Regions from separate parts of the Homo sapiens genome. Here all the other regions are reported to be linked to region 1. The links are microRNA targets in miRTarBase. Many come from high-throughput screens and were not tested one by one. Region 1 holds a microRNA gene; each other region holds the end of a gene's coding sequence. Distances are from middle to middle.
What was found. Region 1 holds the annotated microRNA hsa-miR-432-5p (UCUUGGAGUAGGUCAUUGGGUGG, at 2,254-2,276, opposite strand). A microRNA usually pairs through its seed, bases 2 to 8, with sites in the 3' UTR of a target mRNA and lowers its output. Matches are read on the target gene's strand: a 7mer-m8 pairs with bases 2 to 8, a 7mer-A1 pairs with bases 2 to 7 and ends in A, and an 8mer does both.

Region 2: the mRNA of RHOBTB3 is a reported target of hsa-miR-432-5p. Seed matches in the 3' UTR shown: 7mer-A1 at 3,614-3,620.
Region 3: the mRNA of HEATR5A is a reported target of hsa-miR-432-5p. Seed matches in the 3' UTR shown: 8mer at 2,518-2,525.
Region 4: the mRNA of SOBP is a reported target of hsa-miR-432-5p. The part of its 3' UTR that is shown has no 7-base or 8-base seed match.

The regions. Positions count from the first base shown.
Region 1 is chr14:100,882,622-100,886,771 of GRCh38, reverse strand. It overlaps MIR432 (microRNA 432), which reads right to left and starts at 2,289; the gene lies at 2,196-2,289. It overlaps RTL1 (retrotransposon Gag like 1), which reads left to right. Exons shown (of 4, transcript NM_001134888.3): 4 at 1,898-4,150. The coding sequence starts at 1,984. It overlaps MIR127 (microRNA 127), which reads right to left and starts at 3,793; the gene lies at 3,697-3,793. It overlaps MIR136 (microRNA 136), which reads right to left and starts at 2,070; the gene lies at 1,989-2,070. RefSeq lists a silencer at 786-1,080.
Region 2 is chr5:95,792,511-95,796,510 of GRCh38, forward strand. It overlaps RHOBTB3 (Rho related BTB domain containing 3), which reads left to right. Exons shown (of 12, transcript NM_014899.4): 12 at 549-3,851. The coding sequence ends at 664. Among named protein-coding and RNA genes, the nearest start is that of GLRX, 28 kb to the right of the region's middle.
Region 3 is chr14:31,290,018-31,294,017 of GRCh38, forward strand. HEATR5A (HEAT repeat containing 5A) reads right to left here. Exons shown (of 36, transcript NM_015473.4): 35 at 3,874-4,000; 36 at 1,771-3,595. The coding sequence ends at 3,288. Among named protein-coding and RNA genes, the nearest start is that of HECTD1, 84 kb to the left of the region's middle.
Region 4 is chr6:107,635,018-107,639,017 of GRCh38, reverse strand. SOBP (sine oculis binding protein homolog) reads right to left here. Exons shown (of 7, transcript NM_018013.4): 6 at 3,549-4,000. The coding sequence ends at 3,552. Among named protein-coding and RNA genes, the nearest start is that of SOBP, 150 kb to the right of the region's middle.

The DNA.
Region 1 (4,150 bases):
GTCTGCAGATGAATTACTTAGTTTTTGTATTTCAATTAGAATTATTTATTTGTATTTCAATTAGAATTTTATATTAGAGGTTTGGAATTTTACAGTAATAATGCATATCTCAGAGGACTTTTATGGAGAGGAAATGAGTTAATTTCTGCAATGTGCTATGTACATCATGATGATGATGATGATGATTCTTATAATTCCTATACCATGCTGATTTGTATACTGTGCTTTAAAAAAATGTGATCTCTACCTTGAGGAATGACAAAATAAGAATTTTATATTATATTAAGGCCCTTACATTTTAACCAGAGAATAGTTTTGGTGAGTTTACATGTCAGATATGTTTACGCTAGAAGGTTTGGATTTAATATTGCAGACAGTAAATAAACAGTGGAAGGCTTTAATCAGAGAGACTGCATGATCAAATTTAAGTGTCATGCTAACAAGGGTGTACTTAATTTTGAGAAACAGCAGATCTGAATTTTGTATCCTGTTGGAAAGCTTGGATTTTAGCCAATGAGTTTCACGTAAGGGGGAACGCAGTTTTTTTTTTTTTTTTTACGGATGGGTCCAGTGGCTTAGAAGAAAACTCAGAAGTAACAAAAGGTGTTAAATTTATAAAGAGCAGTAGCTTTACAGTTAATCTATCAGATAATCAAAGCTTAATTTGCTCTGCCCCAGCAGAGAAGAAATGTGCAAATAACCCCAACCAAGACATTCCCTTTCAATTCTGTCTCAGCCCACTAAAACCACCCAACACTAGATTTCCAAAAATCCACTCTGGGACCGTCAGATTCCAAAGATGTCACATGTTCCCCCCAACCCCCACACTCAATGTCCCAACTCTGCCAGATACATGTCTGTTGGGAGGGCTCAACCAGCAACAGAGAGAAAAAGATATTTGCTAGAAAGAGGAGACCAGACCCACTGGCGTTAAGAAGGGGACCTGGGAGGATAAGATTGGAGAGGCGTGCAGATATGCTTGCACTGGTGAAATTGAGGCCAGATGTGTGAAGTTCCAGAAGCCTCACAAAGAGGGCAGTCCTGGGAGAGTGGAGATTGTAGGAAGAGAAGGAGATTATTTGAAGATCTCCTCAACAGCTCAGAGGTCGGGAGAACATAGCATTGGAAGGAGACCAAATCGAGAAAGAGAAATTGGCCAAAAGTCTGAGTTAGAATCAAGTAACAAATATGCAGTTATCCAGCACATAGTAGGTATGTTATAAAATTTATGGAAAAAAAAAAAAAAAACCCAGACCTGTACACACCCCCTGAAATTTCTATTTTGAACATGGGGAAGGAAATAAGAACTATTTTGGGCTGCTGACCCAACTGACGGGACAGTGGCCAAGTGCCCATTTTCTCCTCTTCCACTGCACTGGTGAAACAGTAGGCATCTTTGCTAGAGATTCCCGCTCCACAACCAAGGTGGCTGGGCTTGCTCCAGAGCCCTGAGCCTGCCAGGGGTGGCTTTGGATGGTGCTGAGATGTGACCTCTGTGATTCTCAGGTGACCAAAGCAGGAAAAGAGGATTGACCAGGTGCATGTGCCAGGGGGGAATGGAGCAGCCTGTGCACCCTGCCAGGTACCCGCCTGCCACGGTGGCTGCTCCCAGCCACAGAATTTATGGGCTGTGAATTTCTCACATCTATGGAGGAAAAGGACAGGACAGGCAGACTGAATAAGCCTGGGAGGCAGGTCAGGGGTTGACAGATCTTCCCTCCCTGGGGGCACCCCAAGTGACCAGCCAAAGAGGCTGGCTCGATACAAGAAGGCTTTCCCCCATTTCTCTCTGCTCTGATTAGTTGGGCATCTGATTTGTCCTTGAGACCCTGATACTGCCACTTCACAAGATCCTAAACTACTGCCTTTACTCCCCACACTCCCCTTCCACCACCAGGTTCTGATCTCCACGGTCCCAGCTACTGACTGGACGCCATCACAACCTTACCAATCTTCAGAATACACTCCTTTCCATCCGACGAAATGATAGAACCCTCTGAAGACTCATTTGAGACGATGATGGAGCATAAGAATCCATCATCAAAACAAATGGAGTCCTCCGAGGGCTCATCCAACACCACCGAGGCGACGTCGGGCAGTGGAGTGCGGGGAGAGGCAGGGCCAGCCAGCGGCCCAGCCCAGGAAAAGAAGGAGCCCCCCAGTGGCCCACTCCAGGAAATGGAAGAGCTGCCCACTGATCTACTCCAAGACATGGAGGAGCCATCCAGTGGCCCACGTAAGGAAATAGAGGATCCACCCAATGACCTACTCCAAGACCTGGAGGAGTCATGCAACGGTTCACACCAGGCAAGGGGGGATCCACTCAGTGGAGCATCTGATAGGATGAAAGAAGCATCAGTCAACCCATCGGGAGCCCGAGAAGAACAAGAGGCTCACACTGACCTGAAGGAATCGGGAAGGGAGGAGACTCCTCAAGAGCAAAACCAGACCGAGCACTCAACCGCAGAACTTATGGCCATGGTGAGGTCCATCATCTCGCTGTACTTCCGAATGCAAGACCTCAAAGAGCAACAGAGAGTAGCAGAAGAGATCTTGATCAAAGGGATCAATGCAGGCCAACTGCCCGCCCCAAAGCACTTCTCTGGCGATCGCAGAGAATTCCACGAGTTCATCGTACTCTGCCAACTGACCTTACAGAGCTACCCAAGAATGTTCTATAACGACCGTCTGAGAGTTGGCTATGTCATCAATCACCTGTCCGGCTTGGCATTAGAATGGGCCAAAGCTCTACTGCAGGAAAACAGCCCCCTGATCGGAGACTTCCCAGCCTTCCTGGAGGCCATGTCCGAAGTGTTTGAGTACCGCCAGGCACTGCGTGTGGCAGAAGAGGCCATGTTCACCATCAGGCAGGGCGGCCGCTCTGCCACTGAGTACATCGATGAGTTCCAGAGCCTGGTACCCATCTTGGGCTGGCCAGATGAAGTCCTGCAGGCCCACTTGTGCCAGGGGCTCAACGAGGAGATCAGGCACTATCTATTCCGGGTCCCTCAGCCGGATTCCCTAGACAGTCTGATTGTGCTCATCCTGCAAATAGAAGAGAAGCTGGCAGAGAGAAGAGCTATGCTCAGGCTGCCCCCCGAGGCCCGCCCCCGGAACCTGACCTGGATCGACTCACCTGCTCCAGAGAGGTGGATGGTCAGCAGCTGGTTGCCCAGCGAAGTCCATCCGGACATCAATCGCGCCCACCTCTTCCTGCTGCTCATGGTGAGAGTGAACCCCTACCACAGCGTCGCGGTCCAGGCCCTGGTGGATTCGGGAGCTGACGGCAACTTCATGGATGAGAAGTTCGCCCAAGAGCACTACGTCGAGCTCTACGAGAAGCCGTACCCACAGCCGGTCCAATCCGTGGACGGCTCGCTGATTGGCAACGAGCCTGTCTGGCTCTACACGGAGCCCCTGGTGTGTATCCACCAGAACCACCAGGAGTCCATCGAATTTGACATCGTACCTTCACCGAACTTCTCTGTGGTCCTAGGCATCCGCTGGCTCCGAGTCCACGCCCCCGAAGTCGACTGGATCAAAGGCCGCTGCACCTTCCACTCTCCCTACTGCCTGAAGAACTGCTTCCGCCCGCCCCCGCCATGCATTGCCCTAGAGAGGCACGGCATGAGCCTGCTACCCGGACTGCCACACCCATACTCAGACCTGGCCGACGTGTTTAACCCGAAGGAAGCAGATGATGAGACTTCCGACCAGCCAAGCTCAGACGGATCCGATGATCTTTCTGAATCAGAGCCCTCTGAGCTTCAGCAGGCTGGAGACAGTGATCACAGCGAGACCTTTTACGAGTGTCCCTCCACCGCGCCTTGGGAACCTGTGGGTGCCAGGATGCAAGAAAGAGCCAGGCTACAGGAGGAATACTGGGACCTGCAGGACATGCTGACCAACAGACAGGACTACATACAGATGATTCCGGAACTGTTTGACCAGTTACACGGAGCCGAGTGGTTCACAAAACTGGAGCTGCGTGGGACCATTGTGGAGGAAAGCGTGAACGGGCACCGCACCGAAGATGTGTGGAAAGCAGCGTTTGGTTTGGAGCTTGAAGAGATGAAGAGCTACCAGCCGTTTGCGCTCTCCCCAGACCCTATCATACCTCAGAACGTGATTCACTTCATCCTAAAGGACA
Region 2 (4,000 bases), not on the chromosome of region 1:
AGCCAGGCGTGGTGGCTCATGCCTGTAATCCTAGCACTTTGGGAGTCCAAGGCAGGCAGATCACGAGGTCAGGAGATCGAGACCATCCTGGCCAACAAGGTAAAACCCCGTCTCTACTAAAAATACAAAAAATTAGCTGGGCGTGGTGTCACACGCCTGTAGTCCCAACTACTCGGGAGGCTGAGGCAGGAGAATTGCTTGAACTGGGGAGGCAGAGGTTGCAGTGAGCTGAGATCACGCCACTGCACTCCAGCCTGGGCGACAGAATGAGACTCCATCTCAAAAAAAAAAAAAAAAGAAAAGGAAAATAATGAAATACTACTCGAAGTAGTGGACAAGATATATATAATTGTAAGTCACATAATAACTTAAATCCTGATACTAATTTAACCAAAATGGTAGTAAATTATTTGGGAAAACTTGTGGGAATGGTAGGAGATGTATCACAGAGCTGGATCTCATCTATTAAAGAGGAAATCAATAGCTGATATCTTAATTGATCCATAATAAAACATATTCGGTTAACAGTCTTTTTCTTAAAACTTCAGTGGAAGAACGCAGTTTTGTTGAAAAGCACAGATGGCCGTCGAATATGTACTTGAAGCAGCTTGCGGAATACAGGAAGTATATTCACTCCCGGAAATGTCGTTGCTTAGTAATGTAACCTGGAGCTTTTATACACTACATTTCTTTTTTATTATTATGAAGAATGGGATACCTCCAGGTTCCAGTAAAATTCTTCTGACCGAAACCAATGTGGGTGTTAGAAAAATTACCATATAGCTTAATATGTTTATTAGTTCTCTTTGGAAAAAAACTACCACTGTGGTCTTAAAAGGGAACAAAATATACCATAGGCTAAAACTAAGGCTTTCACTCTAGAATGCAAAGCTGTTTTGCAGCTGTTTTCCCTTAAAGATGTCCTGTTGCTTTAGTGATATTTAGACCCCTCTCAGTTAAGAAATGCTTAGATTAAAAAAAAAAAATTACGTAGGATTAATACAGAAATTTAATCATGTCTGATTAATTGCTCTATTAAAATAAGGGGCATTTAAAGACCCAGCATAACCATTTGTATAATGAGAAATCTAGGGGAAAACCAATCAGTCCAACATGAGATTTTAGGAATAGAAATTTGCCGGCCATTTGGAAAGTGAAATGCCACTTAGTTCTCAATTGATGACAGTGTTTGAATCATCATAAAAAAAATACCTGCTTTTCATCTGGACAACCCAATTGAGCCACTTTATCTCCTTTTGGCAATCTGAGTAGGCGGGGAACCTAGGCAGGGCTGGCTTTCTTAGCGTGTAACTTGTGTAGCAGCACAGGGCCCACACTTAGAAGGACCCCACACTTGGTTCAAGGCTCTGCTATAGCGGAAATTCTTAATAATGTTTGAAGAAGGGCCCCATGATTTCATTTTGTGCTGAGCCCTCAAAATTATGTCTGTTTCGTGGTGGGAAATATCCTATGTTTTCTTGCTCAAACACCTTTCTCTCTGAAAGCAGAAAAAGGCACTGATATAAAGGGAAGAGAAGGAGGCTCACCGGAGGGAAGAGAACATAGTGAAGATTCCCGCCTTTGGGGAGGTCTGGACCACCCAGGGCCTCCACTGCCACCTTGGCTGGCAAGGGAGAAATGTGTTGTGTTGTCTTAGCTTTAAAACAGTCACAGTTCTTGCTCTATCATAGATGAACAAATACTTTCTTGATCATTCTGTAAGACCAGGAGGTTGGTAAGAGTGACTAACCAGCCTAACTTTAATACACATGTATAAAGATGTTCACAGAGAAAGATGCTCTGTAGAGAATTTGCTACCGAAGTTGGCTCAAGAATTTGTTTTTAGTGTTATTTACCAAGATTAGGACGTCAGTGGCTTAAATTCTTTGAATTCTTTTCAAGGACTGCAAGATTATTTGATAAAGAGTAGCATGAATCTTGTGCTCTAATATTACACAGTAAGTTCAAAGAAAGGATGTAAGTCAAAGACTTGTTACATAGAGGGAAAATGGACTGGGATAGAGGACAGACTGATAGTTTCTTTCTTTCATATCACATGTATAGAGAAATAATTATATCAGAAACTCACAAACCTAGACATGGAAAAACAGATTACTGTCTATTGTCAGCATCATTTTCATCTGTAAGTCACTACTGGAATATATTTTTCTTTTAATTTCCAGTGACTTTAGAATACACACAGTTTTTCCGACTTTTCAAAAATTTGATTAAATGGTTTTATAGTATAATATTGGGACCCCATACCGTTAGCCCTTGTATGTATACCAACACTGCCAAAGTAAAACATTAGGTCAGGCATGGTGGCTCAGGCCTGTAATCCCAGCATTTTGGGAGGCTGAGGCAAGTGGATAACTTGAGGTCATGAGTTCGAAACCAGCCTGGCCAAAACAGTGAAACCCCGTCTCTACTAAAAATACAAAATTAGCCAGATGTGGTGGCGCACACCTGTAATCCCAGCTACTCAGGAAGCTGAGGCAGGAAAATCGCTTGAACCTGGGAGGTGGAAGTTGCAGTGAGCCGAGATCGCACCACTGCACTCCAGCCTGGGTGACAAGAGCGAAACTCCATCTCAAAAAAAAAAAAAAAACCAAAGTGAAACACTAAAAATTCCCTATAGATATATTCCAGGAAATATTTTAATTGGGCTGATTTTAATTAGGCTGTATCATTGATGATTACTGGAATCGATTTTATGTCTTTTGTATTTTAATCACTTGAGTTAATCAACCACTGGCAAATCCCATTTGACAAAGATTAGCATTGTAAAAAACAGATACTGTGGTAGATTTCTAGAAATTCATTCACATTTAAGACTTCTAAAATGGAATAATAGCCTTTTGTTTTTCATGAGCATATTCGCACCCCTATATGAATTACAGCATTTAAAGTTCAAAATCAGTAACTTTTAATCTAGGAAATTGAAAAATATTAAGTTGCAAAGCAAAAAAAGGTATTTTCTTGAAAATACTATTTAATGTTTAACTAGACTATAGGTAGTTCCTTAAGGTTGTTTGACCTGAAGTGGAGTTGGGTTTGGAAGCTGGTGCCCAGTTGGTGTGGAGTGTGTAGTTTTGTTATGAAAGTTCTCTACCACCTACCTGTGTGAGTGACACCAACATCCAGATGTCACAGCTCTCCAGAGCTAGTCAGAAGAGAAATCAAATTAGTGTTTAAACCCATTTGCATATTGACTTGTCAGTACCTTTAACTCAATTTAATATAACAAGAAATCGTAAAATACTTATAACCTATCTTAGAGAAATGAGTGCTGGTTTTGAGAGTTGTTTTTTAACTGAAAGATTATTTCTAGATGGGTAGTGCTTTGTGCTGGTTTCTGCTTCCATATATTTCCCAGTCATTTTAATTAGAGAAGATACTCTATGGTAGAACTAAGGCCTTTCCTTTCTTGGCCAAAGTCTTTACCCTATTTAACCCTTTGTATATTTCTGACTGCTCACTGTTCATATTATAGGGGACCAGATTTGTAATATAGAATTCTCCATAACATGAATGAAATTAATTCTGTCCAAGCCAGCATGGTGGCTTCATATTAAGTAGTAACAGAAGTCTGAACAATTGGATAAATTTGACTTCCAAGACAGCTAAACTTTTCAACTGCAATTTTAAAAACTACACTACACTGTTATAGTTAATCTGACAAAAATGTCCTCAAAGAGTACTTTATTTTATTTAAAGCATCTGTTTAATTCAACCTTTAATAATTTTGCAAAGAAGGGTATGTGTGTATTTTAATATAGCCTGACCTGAATTTATATGTTTTTAGCTTTAGTATTTAACTTTTTGTAACAAATAAACCTTTTTTAAAACAAGTTTAACGAAGTGTCCTGTAATTATTTTACCTTGGATGTTGAAATACTGAAATGATTTGGAGAATGCTGCCTTGTATTTCTCAAGCATAATTATGCTTCATAGATAATTTTCATTATGTGTAAAATATCTAGAATGTTGCTGATACTAT
Region 3 (4,000 bases), 70 Mb from region 1:
GCTAATTAATATGCAACTGCTTTATTACAACTAGACTCATTAATATCTAAGCATATAATCTATTCCCATAGAAACTGTAGAGGGCAGGCCAGGTACAGTGGCTCATGCCTGTAATCCCAGCACTTTGGGAGGCCGAGGCGGGCGGATCACCTGAGGTCAGGAGTTCAAGACCAGTCTGACCAACATGGACAAACCCCGTCTCCCCTAAAAATACAAAATTAGCCAGATGTGGTGGCACATGCCTATAATCCCGGCTACTTGGGAAGGCTGAGGCAGTAGAATCACTTGAACCTGGGAAGCAGAGGCCATTGCACTCCAGCCTGGGCAACAAGAGCGAAACTCCATCTCAAAAAAAAAAAAAAAAAAAAAAGAAACTGCTGTAGAAAATAATTAAAAAAAAACTTTTTCCCCTATTCTATTAGCGAAAGACTTTTTAGTTGTAATTTGGAGAAATGTAATTGAAAATATCTTCAACAAAGAGTGAGGAAGGCTCCTGAGGGAGCCCGGAGCGCTGAAAGAGGAGAAAAGCTATACCTTGATGGAATCGGGATTGCCAGTTTTCCTGTCTCCAGCATGAATGCTTGGGATCAGAAAGATGAGTTCAAACCCCAGCTGTTAAGCCTTAATTTCATTATCAGTAAAGATACATTTAATAGTTCAGGGTTGTATTAAATAAGGCGATTTAAGGAGATACATTTAAGAGTAGCTCAAATTTCCTAATTCCATTACACTGGACATAAAAGGTTTTTTTCCTAATTACTGACGTTCATATAAGCACCTTTAATCCAAATAATTCAGGATACTAGAGTACTGAGTAGAAATCTTAATGTGTAAGAGCAAACTAAATGAAACAGCTAAAACAGACAAAACACTTTTTTAAAATCCCTAAGTCAAATTAATTAGTTACATCCTGAGAACAACCTAGTTCAGCATTTGCCTTGGCAAAGAAGTTATGAGTCCTCATCCATCCTGTACCAGTGCAATTCAATAGCTATTAAGTGAGCCAAGTTACAGAAGACATAATTTCTCCCTATGAAGTGGTACAGTCTAAGAGGGAGACAAGATAATATTAAAATGCAATGTGAGCTGGGTGTGGTGGCTCACACCTATAATCCTAGCACTTTGGGAGGCCAAGGTGGGAGGACAGCTTGAGCTCAGGAGTTTGAGACTAGACTGGGCAGCATATGAGTGAGACCTCATATCTACAAAAAAAATTTTTAAATTAGGCTTGGAGACACACATCTGTAGTTCCTGCTACTTGGGGGGCTGAGGCAGGAGGATCACTTGAGCATAGTAGGTCAAGGCTGCACTGAGCTGTGTTCACACCATTGCATTCCAGCCTGGGCAACAGAACAAGACCTTGGCTTAAACAAACAAACAAACCACAAATTGCAATGTGATTTTTTATGCATACAAGAATGTATTAAGCACTATGGAAACACAGATGAGGAAGCAGTTAAATTGGTGTAAGAGGAAGTTAAGAAGTGTTAAGGAGAGTTACCAAGGAAAGGTGATATTTAAGCCAGGCCTAAAAGGAGTGGGCAATCACCAGACAGAAGACAGGAGAGAAAAGGACATTTTAGGTAAAGGGAACAATAAATATACACTCAATGCCTAGAGACACTTAGGAAGAGACAGAGAATCTAAACCATCACAAATAATGCTCCAAAGAAAGGGCTCTTCTGAGAAAAAAGGCTGATTTTCTGGAATCCATGTGAGAGAAACCAACCTGCCATCTTTTGTTGGTAAAATAATTTAAAAATACAAGAATGATAATGAAAATTAGCTTTATTTATGTAATTTAGAAAAAATGATTGTAGTGTTAGAGTTTGTCAAATGTTTTCACTCTGAACAATTTACAATAGTATTTATATACAAACATAATAAAATAGGTACATCACATTGTTCTTGCTTCAAAATGTCTTCTCAATTCTGACATGCTTCTATCACTTCGGTTTGTAATTTTTAAGAGGGAAATGCTCTGTTTTGACACAGTGCTTGATTCACACAGTATAACACTGAAGTAGAAGGAGAATCAACAATCATGAACACAGTTAAAAAATATTTTTCAACCAATATGACTTTATCATTAATCTTTTTTCTATAATAAAATGTTTCCTGTTAAAAAAAATACTTGTATTCACCTGATGACCTAAATTTGTTGTACTAAATTTGGCATTTATATAAACCCATAGTTGATCTAAATACAATGTAGATATGAACCTAGGTTAAAACTCATTGATACAAATGTTTGCCACAAATGAAAATGAACAAAATTGGTAAGAACAGAGGTAAACAGAAAAATCCATTTGAAAAATAGTGGAAATGGCTTATTCTATTTAAAATGAGTAAGACTCAATTTCTGAACCCAATATAAACTAAACCAAAAGATGGTGGAAAACCATGATATAGACACCAAATCTTATGTTGCACTGTAAGGCTGTAAGTAATTTGTACTATTGTATACTGGATAATCCTAGACCAGGTTTCCTAAATAGCTCTCCAATCATTTTATCTTCTTGGAGAAATCAGAGAAAGTTTAATACAATTACTGAATAAGGCAGAATTTTTTTTTTTTTTTTTTAGATGGAGTCTCACTCTGTCGCCCAGGCTGGAGTGCAGTGGCACAATCTTGGCTCACTGCAACCTCTGCCTGCCAGGTTCAAGCGATTTTCCTGCCTCGGCCTCCTGAGTAGCTGGGATTACAGGTGTGTGCCACCACACCCGGCTAATTTTTGTATTTTTAGTAGAGACGGGGTTTCACCATGTTGGTCAGGCTGGTCTCAAACTCCCGACTTCGTGATCCGCCCGCCTTGGCCTTCCAAAGTGCTGGAATTACAGGGATGAGCCACTGTGCCGGGCCAAAGCAGAATTTTAAATCAGCAATTGGGATACAATATTAGTGCAGATAATTTACACTAGAGTCATATTTATATCTGTCACAGTATTAAGTATACCACATATGTATGGACTGTTAGAAGAAATTCATTTCATTTTTAAAGCAGTGGATTGTTTAGTAAGTTTAGTTCTTTAGCACTTTCTTAAAATTCCTGGCAAGTTAGCTCCATTGTCTTTTTAAATAGAAAAACAAAACAAAACAAAACACAAACCCCACGCACACACACAAAAATGTTAAGTATGCTGTTACTTTGAAGAGTCACAGCTATTTAAGGTAAAACAATCAACTAGACCTCTAAGGGCACTTGTGTCTACAATGTCCCTTTTGTCACCAAAGGCAATGATCAAGTATTTATTATATTAAGGTGCTTACTATTCCAAAAAAAAAATCAGAGGAAACTGGTCTTTAATTGGATGCTTGAGTTTTTTCCAGGACTCTTAGTATATTTAGATGTTGGTATCTTGACTTTGACACTTTCCTGATTGCCCTTTATAGCAGCCTCAAGGCGGGCTTTTAGGGCTGGAGAAGAAGCCACTAAACTTTTAAAAACAGATGAATACTGAGGTCCAATTTGCATGAGATTTTGTAGAGCAAAGTCATGTAAATTTCTCATTATGGAAGTTGCTGATCCCAGAGAATTTTCATCCAAAAGGAAGGAAATGAGGATGGGCAAAAGACAGGCCACCAGCTGAGCGCCTAGAAAGTAAACAAATAATATAAGTTCAGTGACATAAATGTTTCTAACAAAAGCCTGCAAATGCACTTGATCTGTATACATTTTTCCCCACTAAAGAAAACAATTCGTCCAATCTCTTCTAAATTAATACTAAATAATATCAATACTTGGGATTAACATAACACCTTTCAATGAATGTGAAATACAGATATAATGTGACTGATTGTTTTGCAATTTAAATAACAGTAAAATTCTGATTTTTGTTGAGACTGAGTATGAATTTAGTGCTGACACTTACGATGGTGTTCTTCAGCAACAGTAACCAGTGTTTCTAAGACCTTTATGCCTTCTTGGAAGATCTCAAGCTCAGCAGTGTTTTCAGGTTTTCTCTTGTCTATTTCCTGCAGTTTTTCCATGATACAGGA
Region 4 (4,000 bases), not on the chromosome of region 1:
GGCAGGAGAATTGCTTCAACCCCGGAGGCAGAGGTTGCAGTGAGCCCAGATTGTGCCACTGCACTCCAGCCTGGGCAACAGACCAAGACTGTCTCAAAAAAATAATAAATAAAATAAAATAAAAATAATAAAATAGTACTACAGTATGAAAAAGGCAGACATAGTGAGAAGAATGAAGAGCTGACTGAAGTTATTGACAGATTATCCTATATAATATATAATGAATATATATGAGAAATAATATATAATGAATCACCAACAAGCACACGGAGAAATCATTCACCTGCACCTCACCCACCACATCTCAGCCTGAGTTTTGCTTTTGGTTTGTAACACTTTCCACTTTGGCTTTTAACTTGTCACCAGTGTTCAGCATCAGGGCACAAAAGCCATACGGTCCTTTATTTAGTGGATACACTTCCAATTTCCCCAACCATATGAACGGTCTGGGTTTCTGAAGGCATAGAAGAAAAACAGCACCACATGTGCACAAAAAAACAGGAAGGGGCCTGGGCACGTTGGCTCACACCTGTAATCCCAGCACTTTGGGAGGCCGAGGTGGGTGGATCACCTGAGGTCAGGAGTTCGAGACCAGCCTGGCCAACATGGCAAAACCCTGTCTCTACTAAAAATACAAAGATTAGCTGGGCATCGTGGCGCGTGGCTATAACCCCAGCTACTCAGGAGGCTGAGGCAGGAGAATCACTTGAACCCAGGCAGCCGAGGTTGCAGTGAGCCAAGGTCGCGCCACTGCGCTCCAGCCTGGGTGACAGATTGAGACTCTGTCTCAAAAAATAATAAATAACTAAATAAATAAATAAAACAAACCAGGAAGGGCCAGAGAATGTGAGTAAATTGTGGCAGGTTGAGACTGTGCTGTGAGGTGACACGGAACTTCTGAGGGCAAGAGGAAATGTGATTTAGTGGAGGAGAGGTGGTTTTTCCCCCATCTTAAATCACTTGCCTTGTCACCCTTTCGTAGCTGACAAAGCCTGAGTATTTCTGTATTTCTGATTTTAAAGAAAAGCTGTAATTTCTTGGGGGACCCATCATTGAAAGAACTCTTCAATCTCAAGAGGTAGTGGGCAATTTCATCACCACATCTTCTGAAATTGGCTGGAGCCAGGTTGATATTTTTAATGATTCTGGTCCACATACAAGACTGATTCTTTATTCAGAAACATATATCATCCAAATAGCCATCGTGTATTTTATGTTTTTATGTTATTTTGGTCCCAAGCTACTCATATGTTAGTGTCACTATTCTTGACCTGGTCACTTCTCACTCCAATGATGGTATAATAGTAAAATCTCTCACCCTCCCATTCTTCTTCTTTTCAGCCTCACCTGAATGAGTGATATTAGAATGTGTTTAAAGTGACAATTCCCAATGCTTTCTGACTTTCTGAAGGCCGTCACTTTTTTTGTCACACATCTTCCCATTACTCACAGCTTTGTCAACCAGATTAAATTACTCTCGTGAAGAAATCAGGGGCATTTTCAATTGAGGTGACTGTGAGAAGGCTGAGGCCATCTGTCTTCAGGCAGCAGAACTTGTAGATGTAAAATCAAGAAGGAATGGTGAACTCATTTTTAGTATTCTTCCTCTACTGGCAAAGCCATCAGAGGAAAAGGAAACCTCGAACGATGGTGGCTGAGAAACCTTTCTTCCTCAACTGACAAGTCTCCTTGCTCTGGTCTGTGCTTCCCAAGCAATCTCCTGGCTATGCTAGGGGCCCAACTTAGAGACCAGGGACTGGACACACCACAGCAAGTGCTGTGCTCCACGTTTGTATTTCCCACTGTGGAGTAATGGGTTGGTAATTTAGGCTTGTTGGTGCTGCAGAAACAAGAATTCAACTGTCTGAACACTTAGAGAAGTTAGGAGGTAGACTCAGTTTTTGTTTGTTTTTTAAGAAACTTTCCCCTATGACAACTGAGGGTTGTTTTACCCACTGAGGTGGGTAAAACAATTTTAGTATGTAGGGTAATAAAGAAACTAATTAGCCTATTCTCCTACAGTGGTTTTTTAAAAAATGCAGCTCTGGAGTCAGACAGCCTGGATTTGCATCTCAACTCTGCTAATTTGGTAAAATCTTGGGCAAGTTACTTTAATGTCTCTGTCTTGGTTTCCTCATCAATAAAATGAAGACGATAATTGTCCTATGGACCCAGATCCAAATAAATACTACCGAAAAACACTTAGAAGACAGCCTGCATACAAATGTGAGCAATTATTCATCTTACGAGATCCACTCTCCTGGCCCCCGCTTCCTTCCTCCTGGAGTTTGCACTCCCACCAGATGGGGGCACGCCATCATTTACCTTTGTATCTCCCTAGTCCCTGGAAGGAGCAGTGTACAAGTTAGGTGCTCAATAAATGCTCATCTCTCCTCTTCCTCTCCATAAGAAGTTGATAAACTCAACTGAATTTTGGCCTGTTTGATGCCCGCTTGGATAGACGGGAGAGCTTGGGCTGTGTCCAACAGGCCTGAGTTGAATACGGCTTCCCCACGTACCAGCTCTGCTTCGGGCACAGTATCTAAGCTTCATCTGCCTCCTTGGTGAGATACAGATGATGCCTATTCCACCAGAATTGGCAGGAGGAGCAAATGAGGCCACCTCTGCCTATGACAGGCACACATGTTAGTTCCCCTTCCCAATATTGAAAAATTTAACTCACTCTTGGCGGCTCACTTGGCATTAGGCAGGAGTCTGTCTATGAGGTCAGAGATGTGCAGTGTCACTCACTTTAGCAATGCCACCCTCTTCCCTATCGAAGCCTCCCATTACCTGCAAAGGTGAGCAACTCATCAGCTAAGCCGCTGGGCCCCAAAAGGGGGAGAGAGCAAAGCTGGTCAGTGACGCTTGAGGCCTACCCTGGGGGATGCTGCTTGGTGCCAAACTGCAGGAAGGAGACCCCATGAACAGGAAAGACACCCTGCCAGGCAAATAGGACTCAGTGGCCTGGGTTCAGTTGACATATGCATGTAAGAGTTAGGTTTCATTCTCACTTTACAAATGGAATCCCGTCCTTATCAAGAAAATTTGGTGACATTCTGCCAATGAGGCAACCAGCTCTATTTAGTAGGTGGCCCAGCTCATGGGTTCACTGGACATTTCACCACTGCCCTGCAACCTCATGATCACACATTTAGGTGTCCCAAGTTAATCTCTTCTCCCTCCCCCCATCCTCCTCTTCTCCAATAGGGTGATTTACGGAGATGAGCATGATAATAAAGTGTAATTGGAGAGACAATATTTCATGACAGGTTGGAGACTGAGCTCTCCCCTCAAGTAAGTGACCCGGGGCTTGGCACTCACATGCTGTGGCTCAGTTTCCTCGGCTGTAAAATGGGAATGATGCTACTGAACAACTCAGCATCAGAGCTGCTGGCTCAGAATGTTGATAGCGTGACCACACCGTGTGCAATATAAAACACACACGGTAAAATCATGACTATAATTACAACTCTCCCCTCTGCCTTGTCAGAAGTAAGGAGAGGTGCACTGGCTGGTGTGGAGGAGCGCCCGGCGGACATACAAACCTTTTACTTATTCTGATTTCTAATTCGGAGGCACCTCCTTTTGAGCGGCGGCTCCAGGTCCTCAGGCCCGGCGCTGAGCATGGGCGAGGAGATGATGCACGGTGCCATGGCAGCCTTCTCCGCGGGTTTTGGCACAGGCTGGATCACGCAGCCGGTCTTGGGCAGCATCCGCAGAGCATAGGCATGGTCCTCGTCCGCGGGGTTATTAAGGTTCGGGTCTGACTTGTCGCCCCCCGCCAGGGCCTCCTCGCCCATCAGCTTTTTGGCCGCCTCCCCGTCCAGGTGGCAGTTGGAAGCACAGTTATTCTCCTTGACCGACTCTAGCTCGCTCACCGCCGGTTCCTCAGGCGACAGCAGCTTCTTGGGGGGCGCGGGCGGCGGCGGCGGCGGCGGCTGCTCGGGAGGCGGCTCCGCGCTCTTAGCGCCCTCGGCGGCGGCGCCGCGCGTGCCGT